Linked DNA regions of Homo sapiens: region 2 is linked to region 1. A link means that fine-mapping ties the variant in region 1 to the expression of a gene that starts in the linked region. Tissue or cell type: whole blood. Region 1 holds a variant in brackets; the other region holds the start of a gene. All regions are shown on one strand. Distances are between the middles of the regions.

Evidence for each region. PIP is the estimated chance that this variant, and not a neighbour inherited with it, causes the effect.
Region 2: INPPL1 starts here. The variant in region 1 is fine-mapped to the expression of INPPL1 in whole blood (TOPMed, PIP above 0.99).

The regions. Positions count from the first base shown.
Region 1 is chr11:72,296,525-72,304,624 of GRCh38, reverse strand. CLPB (ClpB family mitochondrial disaggregase) reads left to right here. Exons shown (of 16, transcript NM_001258392.3): 10 at 2,277-2,321; 11 at 2,661-2,822. It overlaps LOC124902708 (a long non-coding RNA gene), which reads right to left and starts at 4,662. Exons shown (of 3, transcript XR_007062766.1): 1 at 4,445-4,662; 2 at 4,164-4,259; 3 at 1,664-3,892. RefSeq lists an enhancer at 2,228-3,427. The variant A/G (reference allele first, on the strand shown) is at 3,296.
Region 2 is chr11:72,221,379-72,229,478 of GRCh38, reverse strand. INPPL1 (inositol polyphosphate phosphatase like 1) reads right to left here and starts at 4,712. Exons shown (of 28, transcript NM_001567.4): 1 at 4,313-4,712; 2 at 1,226-1,289; 3 at 981-1,131; 4 at 632-752; 5 at 249-389; 6 at 1-14. The coding sequence starts at 4,494. FOLR2 (folate receptor beta) reads right to left here. Exons shown (of 5, transcript NM_000803.5): 5 at 7,529-8,009. The coding sequence ends at 7,717. RefSeq lists an enhancer at 2,462-2,821 and silencers at 4,227-4,436, 4,447-4,806, 5,357-5,756, 5,997-6,226.

The sequences.
Region 1 (8,100 bases):
TTATTTTTTTCTCTCATTAGCCTGTATACTATTTCTTCCAAATTGAGTGGCTCTGTTAACTTTCCTTACTAGAGCTAATAAGCCTTGGGAAGGAACCTTAATGGTGTTCTGTGATATCATCATAAGGTAGGGTGGTGGAGCCCAAAAGACTTAGTTATAGTAGCAATATGATAAGGGATAAAGAACAACTATCTGAGTCCAGCTGCTTGGGTTCAAATCCCAACTGTACTCTACTAGGTGGAGTTGGCCAGGACCTCTGTTTACATCAGCTTTCTCATCTGTAAAGTAGGCTCCATAATGGTGCCAGTCTCACTGGATTGTTCGGAAGGTTAAATGAGATAGTGATGTAAAATGTTAAACGCCGTTCTTGGCATGTGGTAAGCAATCAGTACATGTTGGATGTTACTCTTATTGTTCTTGCCTCACTAAGATCATGTGAAATCAAAATGATGATTCCGGCCAAGAAAGTCAAGCCCAAAAACTTGTTCAAAATTACATAGCAAATCATTAGAAGAACTAGGGTGAGAACCCAGGTCACTTGACATAAGTAAGCACGAGAGTCTATAGTCCATCTGTCGTCCGACATTCATTGGCATCTGGACACAAAGCTCAGCACCCTTCAAGGTGAAGACTGTCAAGAGCCCAGCTGATTGGCAGAGAGGAAGCTATGAGGCAGTGTAGCATGATGGCTAAGAGCACAGACTTGGAGCTGAATTGCCAAGCGCAGGTGACCTTGAGCAAGTTACTTTAATCTGTGACTTAGTTTTCTCATCTGTAAAGTGGAGATGATAGTAGTGCTTACCTCAGAGACTTGTACATGTTCTAAGCCCTTTATAGCTTGCCTAAAACATTGCCAGGCACATAGTAAATACCCAGTAAATCCTGAAACCTGCAGATCTCTTGACTGAGCAGCCTAGGGACCCTCTGGAAATGCTTTCTGGCTTATGCCCCATGTGCTGATAGCAGTGCTTTCCCCCATGTGGCCTTAATAACTTCTCTAAGCCCTGTCCCACCTCTTGGATTAGATCCTCAGACCCCTGGTGAGGCAGGGAGAGGAGCCAAGAGCCTTCTGTAACACAGGACAAAACTGCAGCTCAAAAAGGGGAGGCAGCATGTCCAAGGCTCCACAGGCAGGCAGAACTAGGACTGGAACCCGAGCCCCCTGGCTCCCAGCCCAGGGTTCTTCTTGCCACCCTGTGTCTCAGCTGTAGAATGACAGGACAGAGAAAGAACTAAAAGTACATCATGGCGTGAATTTCTGACCAGTGGCCAAGCTAGAATATAGCCCTGGATTTCAGACATAGCTACCTCCCGCTGAGAATCTTGGCACCCCCATCATCACCGGCTCTCAGGAGAAGCAGGATTCAGTGAATGCTGTCTCTTAGATGGAGGCATGTGCCAGTAGGAGAGGAGCCCGGGGGACTGTGGGGAACTGTGGTCCTGGCTGTGGCTAGACAGGGCACCTGTGGATGCCTTTACAGCTCCCTAATCAGGTAATGCTTCTTGAAAACCAGTGGGCACTCTGCCTGTGTTAACTCTTCAGATCACATAATGCAAGCTGTTCTCTTCCCCAAGGGCTAACCATGGCCCTCACCCATGGGGCCACTTCCTCGGAAATCACCCCTACACCCTGTGGTGGAGAGAAAAGGGCTGTAAAGCTATGTTATGGATATCTTTTTTAATGAAATGAAGAAATGTAAATACATTTTAAAATATATTCATTTTGAAGAAAAGTAAATCAAAGGGACACGGGCATCACACAGACTTGCAGAGTTGAGAGGCATTCTGGAGCCATCTGAGTGTTTCTCTCCTCCCTCGCACCACAGTCCACACTGATCGTGACTGACTTTGTCCATGTCTGCACCATTCGATGGGGTGCTTCTTAAGGACAGAGACCAAGACTTGTTCCCTGTTGTAACTCCGGTGTCCAGCACACACAGGATGCCCTCAGGAAACGTGGAATGGATGGATGGGTGGGTGGATGATGTGGTGATCAGAACAGGAGAGGCCTCCCTGAAAGAAGACACCCCAAGTCAGATTTAGAAGGTCAGGTACATGATTTGGGTCTTTTAAGGAAGAGAATGAGGGACTCGTAGGAAATGAGTGCACAGAAAAGGAGACAGGAAGTCAGAAAAAAACATCTTGAGCGTGAGATAGAAGATCTTATGTTGGTGTGGTGTGAAAGCCTTGGGGATAGTTGAGGTGCTCTCCTCCCTAACCCTTCTCTTCACTTTCCTGCCTCCAAACGGAGTTGGTACTTGCTTGTTTCCACACAGGGCTTCATCAGGCTGGACATGTCCGAGTTCCAGGAGCGACACGAGGTGAGTGATGACAGTCCTTGATTGAAGCATGGTTTGGAGGGCTTGTCAGCATGACTGCCGGGGTCTTGTCATTTGGGCCTCAGATAATTCCAGCAGCCTTGGGATTTGTCGTTGGGAGCACAGGTGTGCAGCAGGGTCACTGATTTGTTTCACATAGGATTTGCTCTGAAGAATAAACATAGAGAAGATCTATCTGCCACACCAGGAGATGGACAGCCAATCATCTCTGTTGAGAGAGGCAACCTTAATAGCGTATAAAGTCATCTTCCCATGCATGCCCCATGTTGGAAACTAAAAGCACAGAAAGGCCTTCCTAGCATGTTTCCTTCCTTCTACCAGGTGGCCAAGTTTATTGGGTCTCCACCAGGCTACGTTGGCCATGAGGAGGGTGGCCAGCTGACCAAGAAGTTGAAGCAGTGCCCCAATGCTGTGGTGCTCTTTGATGAAGTAGACAAGGCCCATCCAGATGTGCTCACCATCATGCTGCAGCTGTTTGATGAGGTGAGTCACCTTGGGCCAGGATGGAGCGGGGGGACACCTGGAGATAAGGGGGACTGTGAACAGCAGAAAGCAAGGGCCCAGAGGCTAGCTGGTCATTCCTCGGCTTCCTGCTCCCGCATGTGTACATTCATTCATCCAGTAGGTGCAACTTAGCCCCTCTGCACTAGGGCCTGGGTGGGGCACTCAAGCGAAGACCAGCCCTGCCTAAGAGTTGAAATTGTGTGGCTGCTCAGCCCACCTTCTAGAGAGACATGGTATGGCAGAGGTGCCATGAGAGCGAGACATGAATTTTTAGTTCCAGCTCTGCTCCTGACTGGCTTTGTGGCCTTGGCAAGTCACTGCCCATCTCTAGGCATCAGAGATCTCATGTGACAAACGAGGAGGCTGAATCAGAGAAGCCCCAAAAATCCTTCTGCCTCAGACAGCTCTTGTTCCTCCCTGTGTGCCAAACATTGTCTCCTGCAGTTCTTTAA[A/G]ATGCTAATATTGTTGCTGCTAATGGTGAGATGCTGATACTCTGATTCATGGAGCCTTTCTCTTCTGAGAATCTGAGGGTTCTCACAGACTGTCCAGTTCCCCTGCTCGTAGGGGTAAGTTCTAAATGGAGAGAAGAGCTTACTTCTATCCAGTACCTTCTGTGTACTAGACCTGTACTAAAGACGTTACAGCCATTATCACTAATCCTCACAAGGTAGGTAGAAAAATTCCTAACAGGCAAGGGAGAAATTAGCTCATTTTTTACAGATGAAGAAACTGAGGTTCAGAGAGGTTATAAAAGACATGCCTAAGGCCACAGCTGCTGTGTAAAGAGCCAAGATTGGGCTGCAGATATGTCTGATCCCAGAGCCCCAATTCTCCCCCCATACCACTGTTTACCTTGAACCAGGCGAGGGATTGCTTACGATCACGGAAGAAGATGACTTCCACCTTTTCAGGGGCCCTGCTCCATCAAGAGAGCGTGAGGAGCCAAGGACTGAACCGGGGATGAGGCCTCTCTTCTCTCATGCAGGGGCTATATTAGCTAGCACCTGGCCATGAGTCCAGCTCACCTTTCTACCTAGTCTCCTGCAGCCCTAGGAAAACAAAAAGGTGGTTTGCTTCCCATGTCATAGGAGGCCACAGGGAGGGGACTCCTCCAGACCGAACAGCACATCAGGTACCAAGCCAGGAAGATCCAGATCCAGATCTCCTACCAGCTGCTCACTGCCTTCCCCACCTGGCCCAGCCTCCTTGCCCCTGCCCGTTCCGTTGTATCTTCCTAGCCCTTCAGCTGCTCCCTGCCCCTGAACCTCTGCTGAGGAAGAAGAGACCAGTCCTTCAGAGGTCACATACTCAGTTACTCACGTGTACACTGAGGCCTCTACTCCATTCCAGCCTCTTGATGGGATTCAAGTGCACAGCTATGACCAGACCCGAATGTGCCCTCTTGGAGCTCTCTGCCTGGTAGACAGGTGGAAAGGAGACATGGTAGTAGCTGGCATTTTGCATTTTGTGTGCCATTCGCTGTCTTCAGAGGCTTATGTGTATCAATTTAACCCTTTCAACAACCCTCCAAAGCTAGCTATTATTACGGCCTCCATTGAACAGATGTGGAAACTGAAGCAAAGTAAGATTAAGTCATTTACCTGTGGTCATGCAGCTGGGGAGAGAGAATCAAGGATTCAAACCCAGGCAGCCCAGTTCTAGATCCTGCAGCTTGAATGACTGCCACGCAGCTAGGGCCAAAAGAGCGAGGTCCGTCTCAGTGAAGCACGCAAGGGACGGGACCATGCCGCTGAGGGAGGGTGAGCATCGCGGCCTGTTTGATCTCTGGTCTCCCTGGAGAGGCACCTCTGATGGCATTCTTGGCCCAAAAAACAGAAGGCAACTGCTGACTGAAGTACAATCAGCCATACATGGAAGCCCTGTCTCCCCCTCCTCCGTCACTTCACTCCACTGACTGCCTTTTAGGGGTTGATAGGAATTCCTTCCTGCAGCTGTTGTCGCCCCTTCCCCCAGCCCCAGCCTACTATAGTTTCTGATGCTCTTGGTTCCATTGACCAAAGCTGCCATCCAGGTTTACTCGATTTAGGCTCTTTGAGGATGGGCCCTTGTCATGTTCACTTGAACCATTCCCAGAGCCCACAAAGTCAGGGGAAATGTTGTATTGACTAATTTAATTCAACAGTAGTTTTAATTCAACAGTAGTTAGCAAACCTTCAAAGGGTTAGTAAGTGCTAGGTGAACAGAGTGGCGGGGCTGGCAGTAGAAACCTAATGTATAAAAGTACAGGGCATGAAACAGGCTGGCATGCTCAGGGAACTGCAGCTGGTCAGTACTGCTCGATTGCAGAGGGAAAACAAGGACAGAGTGCTAGAGACAAGGTAGGTAAGGTAAACAGGGCCCAGTTAAAATGCCAGGCACAGAAGTTTGCATTTCTCTGGTAGAGAGTAAGGAGCCTTTTAAAGACTTTAAGCAAGAAAGAAACAGTCAAATTTTCACTTTACAAAGATGCCGTGGGCAGCTGTGTAAAGAATGGATGAGAAGGGAGAGGGTCATTAACAAGGAGACTGCTGGGGAGCCCAAGCTACAGCTGGGGAGGCCATGGGCTGGAGAAACTACTAGAAGGTTGACTGAGGAGAGGAGGAGGAGCCAAGGGTGGCCAGTTGGCTGCTGCCAGTTGGCCATCAGCTAAGGCGGCGAACACAGTGGGAAGCCGCAGATTGAAGAGGAAGGTGAGGCACTGAGGTGTGGAAATGTTGAAGGTGAGATACCTGAGGGACATCCAGATGGAGATGGCCAAGGGGCCGTTCATCAGTTTTATGGGTCAGGAGTTTAGGAAAGGTCTGACTGAAAATAGCAGTTCAGGAATCCTTCAGCCCAGAGAGGTTAACGGAAGCCACAGGAATGGATGAGGTCTGTAACCCAGGGAGTGTATAATGTGCAGAGAAAAGAGGGCTATACACAGAGCCTTGGGACCTATCAGGGAAGTCAAGACAGACTCGCCAGAGAAGTAGGAGGCAAAACCAGGCCAGGCATGATGGGTCACACCTGTAATCCCAGCACTTTGGAAGGCCGAGGTGGGCAGATCACTTGAATTCAGGGGTTCGAGACCAGCTTGGGCAACATGGCAAAACCTTGTCTCTACAAAAAATACAAAAATCAGCTGGGCATAGTGACATGTGCCTGTAGTCCTCACTACTCAGGAGGCTGAGGTGGGAGGATGGCTTGAGCCTCAGAGGCTGAGGTTGCAGTGAGCAGAGATTGCACCACTGCGCTCCAACCTGGGCAACAGAGCCAGACCCTGTCTCAAAAACAAAAAAGAGCCAACCAAAAGAATGTGGCTCATTCATTTATTCATGAGGCGCTGTGTGGGGTAGAGGGGACACTGACAAAACAGATGCAGCCCTGGCCTTGGCGTGACCAATGAGTGCGGAGACAGGCAGCTAAAAAGTAGTTCAGTCCACTGTGGTCGGTGCTGCGCTAGGGACAAGCAGCAAGTGCCAGGAGTTGTAGGGGCACCTAATCCAGGCTGGAGGTGTGAGGGAAGCAGCCTCACCCCTACCCAGTCTAGTTCTCCCAAGCCTGGGCCCAGAAAAGTAAGAACCCTATTGCTCTCATCAAAGCACCAAGCAGGTCTACTGCTGGCCACTCACAGGTGACCCCAGGGCAGAAGTCCCAGAAAGAGACTAGTCCCCAGAGAGCCCAGCCCCCACTCCTCCCACCAAGGAGTCATACGTGAGACAGTGGGAAAGCAGCCCCATAACCCTGGGGTGAGCATTCAAGCCCCACCCAAGATGTGCACGCTCTGGTTGTTAGAGGGAGGTGAGGCACGGACAGCTTCCTGTTTGAGACACATCTTTATTGCTAAGGAAACTGAGGAGGAGACATGAGCACTGAAAGTCACCCTTTGGGTCAGTCATGCACTGCACCTGCTCCCCTCACCCACCTGGGACCCATCCTCAGGCCCAGTTATGAGCAGAGCTTTGATCTCTGAGAATGAAATTGCTGCTAGGTTATTGCTCTGGCCAGTATAGCAGTGTGTGAACCCAGTCCTTAGGGATGAGCTCTGCAAAGTGAGTATGGAACACACACACAGTCATATGCACATGCTTGGACATGTCACACACACACACACACACACACACACACACACACACACACACACACACACACACACACACACACACCTGGTCCCCAAAACTAGAACTGCCCTCAGTGGATCTGTTAGATTAGAACCCATAAGCAGTGGGGTAAGAGTGAAAAGCTGCTGGTAAAAGCTCAAGGACATCTGCTTGCACCCTTGCTTCCCTTTTCCTGCCCCAAGGCAGGGACAGCAGAGTGACCAGCTCCAGGATGTGGATTACCAGGCCCCTTGTGTATAGACCCTTTGGGAATTAACAGTTTCTCAAAGGCCTCTGCCAAGGTCCAGTGGAAAGCAAGGCTGGAAACTACACCCAGCATGCAGTAAGCTAGCTCGGTTGATGCACAGTCCTTTCTCCTTTGCTCCTAAGGAGTAGGACTGGGTTTACCATTACACTGGCTTTAGAAGCAAGGGCTAACCCTGAAGCTCGGGCAGGGCCCAGCATCCCTGGCTCAGGCAGGAGCCAACAGGCTGAGGTCAGTGATGTATATCCCCAGAGCCACGGTTTCTGGCTTGGCGGGAGCTGTGCTTTCTCTGCTTCCCAAAAGAAATCTCAGGTAGATCTCCTCCCTAGCACCTGTCCCAGTTGCATCTCTCCAGTGAGGATCAAACTGAATTTGGCAGAATTCTGAGAAAATTCTGTCGAAGGAAAGAAAATAGCACGAGGCCTCATTCATCCAGCACCATTGGTCTGACCTCTGTAGCCTGGTGCAGAGGAAGGGCATGGGCTCTGAGGTCAGATAGTTCAAGTCTCGCCTCTACTGTATCCTAGCTGTGAAACCTCGAACAAGTTATGATCCTCTCTGAGCCTCAGTTTCTTTGTAGGGGTCCTAACTGCACCTACCTCCAAGGGTGGATGTGAAGATTCCAGCCTCCAGCAAGCAGGTGTCAAACACCTACTCTGTACCGGACGCTGTTCTGGGACACAGTGATGAACAAGACCCAGCCTCTGTTGTCAAGGAGCCACTTTCCTAGTAGAAGGAGTGGGGTTGTACACAAAAAGCACTAAGCAGAGCATCTGTGATGAAAGTAGAAGTCCCTGTCCGTGTTCGGCATTGTCACTCTATTGCTTGCTCTCAAGGAGTCCCTGATCATTGCTTTTGTTATAAATGACATAAAGTGCTGTTGTACGGTCATGCCCTTGAGGTTCGCTGAGTG
Region 2 (8,100 bases), 75 kb after region 1:
CCTTGTCCACCTCACTAGGGAAGACATCAGATCAAAAGAACTCCCACCCCGACCTAAGTATAGGGAAGGGGGCGCTGGGTGTAGCCTCAACCTCACCACAAGGATAAAGGCTACCAGTGAGGAAAGTCAAGAGGCAATGGCTAGTTCACTGTTCAGGATCAGAGATCAGGGCACCTGTGCAGCCGGGAAGCAGGTGAGGACAGGTCAGAGGTAAGGGTGTAATACATGGGGCTGGATGTCCCAGATACCTGTGCAGCCTCCGGCATGAGGTAGCGAGGGTACGGGTGAGGTGGGGCAGGTGGCTGGCTCCACCCCTCACAGCTTCCAGGTCCAGCCCATAGCTGCCTTTCAGGTAGTCGTGCGAGACGGTGCTCAGCCCATTGGGAGCACTTTGGGGAGGGGTTAAGAAGTCAGTGGAGGTCCTGCTGACCTGTCCCAGCACCTCTGCCCCATCCCTAGAGGAGATAGTACCTGTGGCAACCAGGGCGGGATGGATCAGGTTATCTGCCTCTGGGCTGAGGTGGGGTGGGGGTCCCTGGTGGGGTCTTAGAAGGCCTCCCCACCTTTGGTAGGGAAATAGTTCTCAGAGGAGAAAGGGTCTCCTGTTCAGTGGATGGGATGGGGGTCTCACCTCTCAGCAGCTGGAGCTGTGGGAGTCTCAGGAGCTGGCAGGGGACTGCTGGGCCCAGTGGGGGCAGAAATGCTGGTGGAGCCAGAGCGCGGGGGCAGCGGGGGCTTCTCATCCTCCCCATCTGTGGGCAGGGGTCAGTGGGCAGCCGTTTGGGCCTCCCACACTCAGTGGAGTAGGAGGCACGATGCAGCTGTAAAGTGACTTCCATGGAAAGAGGGTTAAAGGGCCCCGGCATCATGGCCAAGGGAAAGGGGGTTACAGGAGAGGTGGGGTTGAGAAGGGGGGATGGGAAGAGGCAGGTAGAGCCAAGGGACAGGGGCAGGGAGGGGACCTGCACACTGGGAAGTACCTGAGGCATCCCGGTCATCCGGTGGGTCCGGCTCTCGCTCACCCTCTACAGGAAGAAGCAGGGCGCACACAAGGCCCTGGTTGGGCTGGGCGTACAGGCCGATGAGCTCACCCAGGGTCTGGAAGCGGCGCACAGGCACACCCTGCGAGGTCTGTGGGCCAGCAAGGGTGGGAGGAAGGGTCAGCCAGCAGGTCCCCAAGCCCTAGGCTGGATCAAGGTCAGGGGTCAGGGGCCCAAGCTCCTACCTGCACAGCCAAGAAATCTTCTCCATCAGGCAGAATGCGATACGTGTGCACATGCTTCTGATACCTGATGCCAAGGCAGGGCCAGAATCTGTCACCCCCAGGCTGGGGTCTAAGACCCAAAGCACCCCTTCCTCCTGCCAGCAAGCTCAGCACCCCAACCCCCTCAGCTTGGTTTCCCTAAAACCACCTGCCCAGGCTGCACAGGGTTAATGATGTGGCCGGTCCACTTCCACCCTCCTGGTGTTGCCTATTGGGCAGGAATGACCAGAACACCCCCGTCTCCCCACCAGACCTACACAGACTCCACACCCACCACAGGGCAGGGCCTGAGAAGCAACAGGGAGCTCTTTTGTGGCCTCCACAGCTGTCTAAACAGCCCCTCTGGGCTGTGGTACCAGTCTGGGCTCCCCGCCAGAGTAAGAGTCTTCAGAAGCCTGGTTAGCCCATTTGCACACACGGGCAACGTGCTAACACGTGTGTATGCCTCCTGTGTTTATGCTGCTCTCTGGCTCTGCTGGAGTCGGGTATGTCTAGGGCACTTGTGCCGAGGAGTGTGGGGGCATCACCCTAGGCCTTCCCACCAAAGAGGGCCCCCATGGGAGACCTGGGCCTCTAGGAGCCCCAAGCCAAGGAGGGGCAAGAGGGGTGCTGACAGACAGGAGCCGCAGTTGAGCAGGTGGCAGCTGAGCCAGGTGCACAATCAGCGGGGGATGGAAGATCCTCTGCCTCCGCACCTCAGGGCATGCTTCCCCAAGGAGTCACCCAGGAGTCACCCTAGGTGACTCTCCTGGCTGCTTATGCTGGGTGAGTGTCTGTCACCAGGTGTTCCTTTGTAGACTATTACAAACACTATCTGTGTTTATTACAATAGCATACCATTAACTGAATCCTATCTGTGACACGCTGGGTACCCAGTGTCCTATAAATCTTACTTAATTCTCACACTTCTAAACAGATATTATTATCCCCATTCTCCAGCTGAGGAAACAGGCTCAAAGAATAAAAGTGATTTTCCTAAGGCCACAGAGTAAGTAAAAGGTGGAGTTGGGATTTTAAACCATGGCAGAAGCCAGGGCCAGTATCCTAGCTTGCTGGTCAGATTGCCTGTGCCTGCTGGGGCAGGGGCGTGTCTTGCATGTTATCCATGAACACCCGGAATGTATACAGGTAAGCAAGTATGTGTGTATTTGGCAAATCTAAGATATTGCCCACGTCTGATCGCCCACGTCTGATCCTTACCCCCAGGCTCTTGAGATGCGGGGAAGAGCCAGAGTCAGCTGGCAAACCTGAAGCCCCCACTCACAGACAGACCCCTCACCCCATTCACAGCCTCCCTTGGCAATGAGGCCAGGATTCTCCCCCTCCTGGGACAATAATGTTCCTCACCCAGACACAGGCCCCAGCTGTCCCCCTCCCACTCAACAGCTGACCCAGCACCTGCCTCCCTCCCCAGCCTAATTAGGGGGTATGCCTCAGAGGGGGCTGGGAAGCAGGACTTGGGGATATTCATCTGCCTAGTCTGTCCCTCCTTAGTCTCCCCCTACTGGGCCTCAGACTTGAGGCCTAAGCTAAGACTTATAGGGCCCCTTCCTTGTTGGGTCAATTGCCTAGGCTAGAGTTTTTCAACCTCCATACCACTGACATTTTGGATTGCACAGTTCTTTGTTGTGGGGGACTCTCTTGTGCACTGTAGAATGTTTAGCAGTATCCCCGGCTTCTACCCACTAGATGTCAATAGCACCATCCCAGTTGTGACAATTAAAAATGTCTCCCCAGCTGGGCGAGGTGGCTCCACCTGTAATCCTAGCACTTTGAGAGGCCGGGGCAGGTGGATCACTTGAGGTCAGGAGTTCAAGACCAGCCTGGCCAATATGGTGAAACCCCATCTCTACTAAAAATACAAAAATTAGCTGGGCTTGGTGGCGAGCGCCTGTAATCCCAGCTACTGGCGAGGCAGAGGCAGAAGAATCACTTGAATCCAGGAGGCGGAGGTTGCAGTGAGCCGAGATTGCACTACTGCACTCCAGCCTGGGCAACAGAGCGAGACTCTTTCTCAAAAAAAAAAAAAAAAAAAAAGGTCTCCCCTGGTCTAGGCTAATGTGCGCCCCGACCAAAGATGTCAGGAGAACAAAGGGGTAAGGAAGGTACAGTGGGACAGGAGTTTGGGAGGGGGTTCACAGAGCTAAGAAAGATCTAAATAAAGATCTAAATAACTGATCTAAATAAAGCAGCCCCCACAGATTCCCACTCACTGGGCCCACAGAAGCCAACTCAATGTCAGACTGCAGGGCAGGAGGTACAAAGCCGCTAGAAGGCTGCAAAACCAAGAGTGCTAACTCACCCCAGCACCACTACCAACCACACTGGGCTGAAAGGCACAGCCACAGGACCTGGCCCACTCAGAGAAGCACCAAGTCTGGCTCTGCTCTCACTCAGCACTCATAGCTCAGGGCTAGGGCAGCCAGGTAACCAGGGCTCAAGCCCAGAGCCAGGGCTCAAACACTCACTCATTGGTTCAGAAATAATGGCAAGGTCCCATACAGCCTCAGCCTCTGCTTCCCCAAGCCTTCCTCTCTACACCACCCATCACCGCCCCCACCACCCATACACGGCCAGGCAGAACCCCAAAGCACCGAAAGGGGCCCTAAGGAAGCTGCCAGGCATCCCCACACACCCCGTCAGTCCCTCTGCCCCGACTCCCTCTCCTGCTCACCACTCAGTCCCTATCCAAACGGGACTGCACACAACGTGGAATGCACATCCTCTCCCCTGCTCCCTTCTACCTGGAGGATGCCTGAAGGGGTCTGCCGGGGAATGCCCGAATTTTTCGTCATCACAGTCACACTGGGCCACAGAACCCCATATTCTCTACCCTCAAGGCTCCTGAAAGTGCCCCCAGACACACAGCAGGAAGTGCCCCTGCGTCCCTCCTCAGACCCAGGAGAAAGCCAAGGCTCCCACTCTGGGGGGTGGAGGCGGGTCTGGCGTCCCACCGCCCCAGAAACCCTCACCCGGGCCCTTTCCACACCCGGCCGTGCCCGCGCTCCCGGTCCACGCCAGCCCGCAAGGAGCCCCCGCCCCACTCACAGGACGCAGAGCGCGAAGGCCCCCGCCACGCTCTCGCTGTCTCGGACCAGGAAGCTGCCATCGCGGCCCGCCCGGGCCAGCAGCTCCTCCGCGGCCGCCCGGCTCAGGTCGCGGTGGTACCAGGAGGGGGCCTGGCTGCCCAGGGCGCCCCCCGGGCCCGGCGCCCCGCAGGCCGAGGCCATGGCCCGCGCAGGGCTCAGCACCGCCCGCCCCCGCCGCCCCGCGCCATCCGCCCCGAGACGCTCAGGGCTGAGGCTGGGGCCGGGCCCGGGGCCCGGGCTTGAGGATCCGTGGGCCGGACAGAGCCGGGGATCGGGACTCAGCACTCCGCCGCGCAGGCCGCCTCGTTCACCGCGCAGCCGCCGCTGCCTGCAGCGCCGGCCTCAACTTGAAGAGAAAGAAAAGTTTGTTCAGAGGCGGCGGGGGAGGGGCAGGAGCGGAGCGCAGGGCCGGCTGCCGCCCCCTCCCCCTCCGCTCGGCCCGCAGCCCGGGCCGCCCCTGCCCCCAGCTCCTCCTGCGGGGACGGTGCCCCCACCTTCCCGAAGGGCCCGGGACCTCCCAGACCCCACAATGATCCTGCCCCCATCATTCACCCGAGGAGATCCAGTCCCCAAATCCCCATCGAAATCCGAGTCCCCCCATCCTGGCCCCGACACTTCGGGATCCAGGCACCCCCTGGAGAATTCAGCGCTTCTCAGTTCTCCCAATGATATGACCCCTAAGCCCCATAAAGGTCTGATTCCACTCCATGGCTCTTCCTCTCGTCCCCCTTACAGCTTGGCTGCATCGAGTTCCCCAAACCTGCGAAGGATCCAGGACCACCCCCTACCCATCCTCTTCCCTCCACCCAAGCGGGCGGGGCCCCCAACTCCTGCGAAATGCAGCCCCCTCTTAGATCTGAACCCCCAACTCCACGGGAACCGTCCCCCGGCAAAGCCTGCGGGGAGATTCCCTGGCTAACCAGGCTTCTGAAGATTCTTACTCTGGCGGGGGGCCCAGACGAGGTGCGACGTTCTCGAGCCTCTCACGCAGCCCCTCCCAGCCCCGCAGAGCCCTTCCCCCTCTCGGCCAAGTTCCCCAGCACCACCCCCCACACCCGCAGGCCGGGCCTTGAGGGGGTTCAGCAGTCCGAAGCCAGGAGGATCCCTGGCCCGTCTAGTAGAAAGTTCCCTCCCGGGATCCCGGCCGCCGCACGCAGACCCCCACCTCCCGGGCTGCTCCGGCGCCCCCTTCCCCGGACAGCGGCCCTGGGCTCCAGGCGGCCACTTAAGATGGCCATCCGCGCGCGCCCCCGCCCTCCGCGCCGCCCGCCCCGCCCCGCGCCGCCCCGGGGAGCCGGGGGCAGCACCGCGCCTCGCCTCACCCCGCCCCGCGCCTCGGTCCCGGAGCCGCTGGCCCACTGGGTGACCTCGGGCAAGTCGCGGCGCGGGGTTGAGCGTCGGCTTCCCGCTCTGGAAAATGGGGATCCTGTGGCGAGGGCCGGCTCTGGGGGCCGAGCTCGTACCGCGCTCGGCACCGGGCCTGGCGCCCAGCCCGCGCTCCCGAACGGCGGCTATTTTTATTATTAATTAAGGAGAAACGAAGGTGACAGCTGTGTAAACTGTAAAGCGCGGCTGCGGAACGAACGGGTATTATTAGCACTCGCCCCCGCCCCAGCGGCTCCCTCCGAGTCAGCAAACTCGCGCCTCCGCGGGCCGGACGCCCAGCGGGGAGCTCCCAGACGGGGTCCGCTGCAACGCCCCCCTAGCTTCCTCCCCTCCAGCCGAGGGCGGAAGGGGGACGCGGCAGCCGCAAAGGGGGCGGAGCCCATAAAAGGGTCTGGCCCGCCCCCTCCCAAAAAAAGACCTAGCCGGTGGCGGCGTCTCCGGGGAGTCGTCTTCCTGCCCCGCCCCTCCGCCCCCTGGCTCCTTAAAGGCGCAGGCCTCCAGCCGGGCGCCCGCCGCCACCATCTCCTGGGCCGCCGTGGGAGAATCCCTTTAACCTGGGAGAGAACTTTCACTTTGCTACGTTGAACCTGTTGACGGAGCCCGGGTCAGTCCCTCGAGCTCCTTCCTCTATTTCAAATATGCATTGACTTAACCCAGCTGGAGCAGAGCCTGGGACGTGGAAGGGGCTCTGTGGGGCCTTCCACACTAGATAAATATAATAACTAAGAGATCCACCCACCCACCCAACAGTGCCTCCAGAACCCAATAACTCATCCTACAATCTGTGCCACCGTTCTCATCAGCCACCTTTTAGTATAAGAAAAGATGAGCCTGATGTGAGGGGAATCCTTGGTAGTGGGGGAGAGACCTGGACTGGGAGTCTGCACACCTGGGTTCTAGTCCTAGCTGGGCCACCTACCTGCAGGGTGTTCTCAGAGACTTACCTGGGCCTCTCTGGGGACAGTTGTAGTAGGAGTGTGCAAACAAAGACTTATCCAAAGGGAAAGGGGTGTTGGGAGACCCAGAGATAACTTAGGCCCAGCTCCCGAGGGCTTTGCAAAGACAGAGCAACCCCCTCAAGATAGGCATATCTGCCAATCCCAGGAGGAGACAAAGGTGCCAGAGGCTCCTGACCCCGGGAAGCCCTTAAGGGTTTCTAACTCTTCCAGCCACACCTCCAGGACACCAAAGCGCTGAACCAGTTCCAGGCTCTTGAGTATTCCACTCCAGAAACCCCCTACACTGCCCTCTCCAATTGGCTCTGTTTTTCCTCTGAGAGTCCCAGGCCCCAACTCTGCTCCTTCAATGTGCATCACGTTTTTTTCATCCCACTGTGAATTTTTTTCATCCCACTGGCAATCTGAATCCTTTCCTGGACTCCCATTCCCAGCTTTCCTGTTACAGAGCCGAGCACAGAGCCAGGCACAAGGGCTGGAGGACCAGGAGGCTGTTTGGAGACCAAGACAAATAAGCTCAGGACCTGGCTCCCACTTGGGGCAACAGGAACAACAGGATCCCTGAAGACTATTAATGTGCAGACACTGGGCTCACGGGCTTTCTAGGCAACAGCTCCTGTATATTTCACAAGCCTGAGGGCAGGACTATTATCCTCTTTTTATCCAGAAGGAAACAAAGGTTTAGAGCAGTGAAGCAACTGTTTCATTTTCACAAAGTAGCAGAGCTGGGATTCAAACACAGGTCTAGTTGCTCTAATTTGAAGGAATCCAGAAGCCGTAGAATCTGTCTCCCACCCACCCACAAACTCACAACCAAAACAATTCCACAGACATGGAATTATTAGAAAACAGTCTGTTTATTAGAAGTGACTCTTGGCCCCACCATGGAGCAGCAACAGACTGGGTGACAGAGGGTTAGGTGACTAATAGAAGCATGCTTAAGGGGCTGTCATTTGTGGGAGCTGAGCTGAGCCCAGCCTGGTTATCCAAGCTGAGGGCAGGTAGTCTGGGAGGACTGAACTCAGCCAAGGAGCCAGAGTTGCAGCATCAGGGCCAGACTGAGCAGGAGACCCCCAGTCCCATGAAGCATCTCACCAGCATTCACATGCATGGCTGCAGCATAGAACCTCGCCACTTCCTCGTTGGGGTTGCCCTGGGCTGAATCAAACCACATCTGGATGCAGCGGCCGCTCCCTCGGCTGTAGTTGCTGACCTTGTATGAGTGACTCCAGAGGCCTTCACAAAGGGCAGCTGGAGTGGGGAAGTAGGACTCAAAGGTGCGGCAGAGAGCCCCAGCTGGGCACTTGTTAACTCCTGCAGGGAGAGGCATGGTGGACACAGACTTTCAGCCCCTGGGCCCAAAGCTCATTTCTGGCCACCCCCAGAAATCTTCACCCCACCCCAA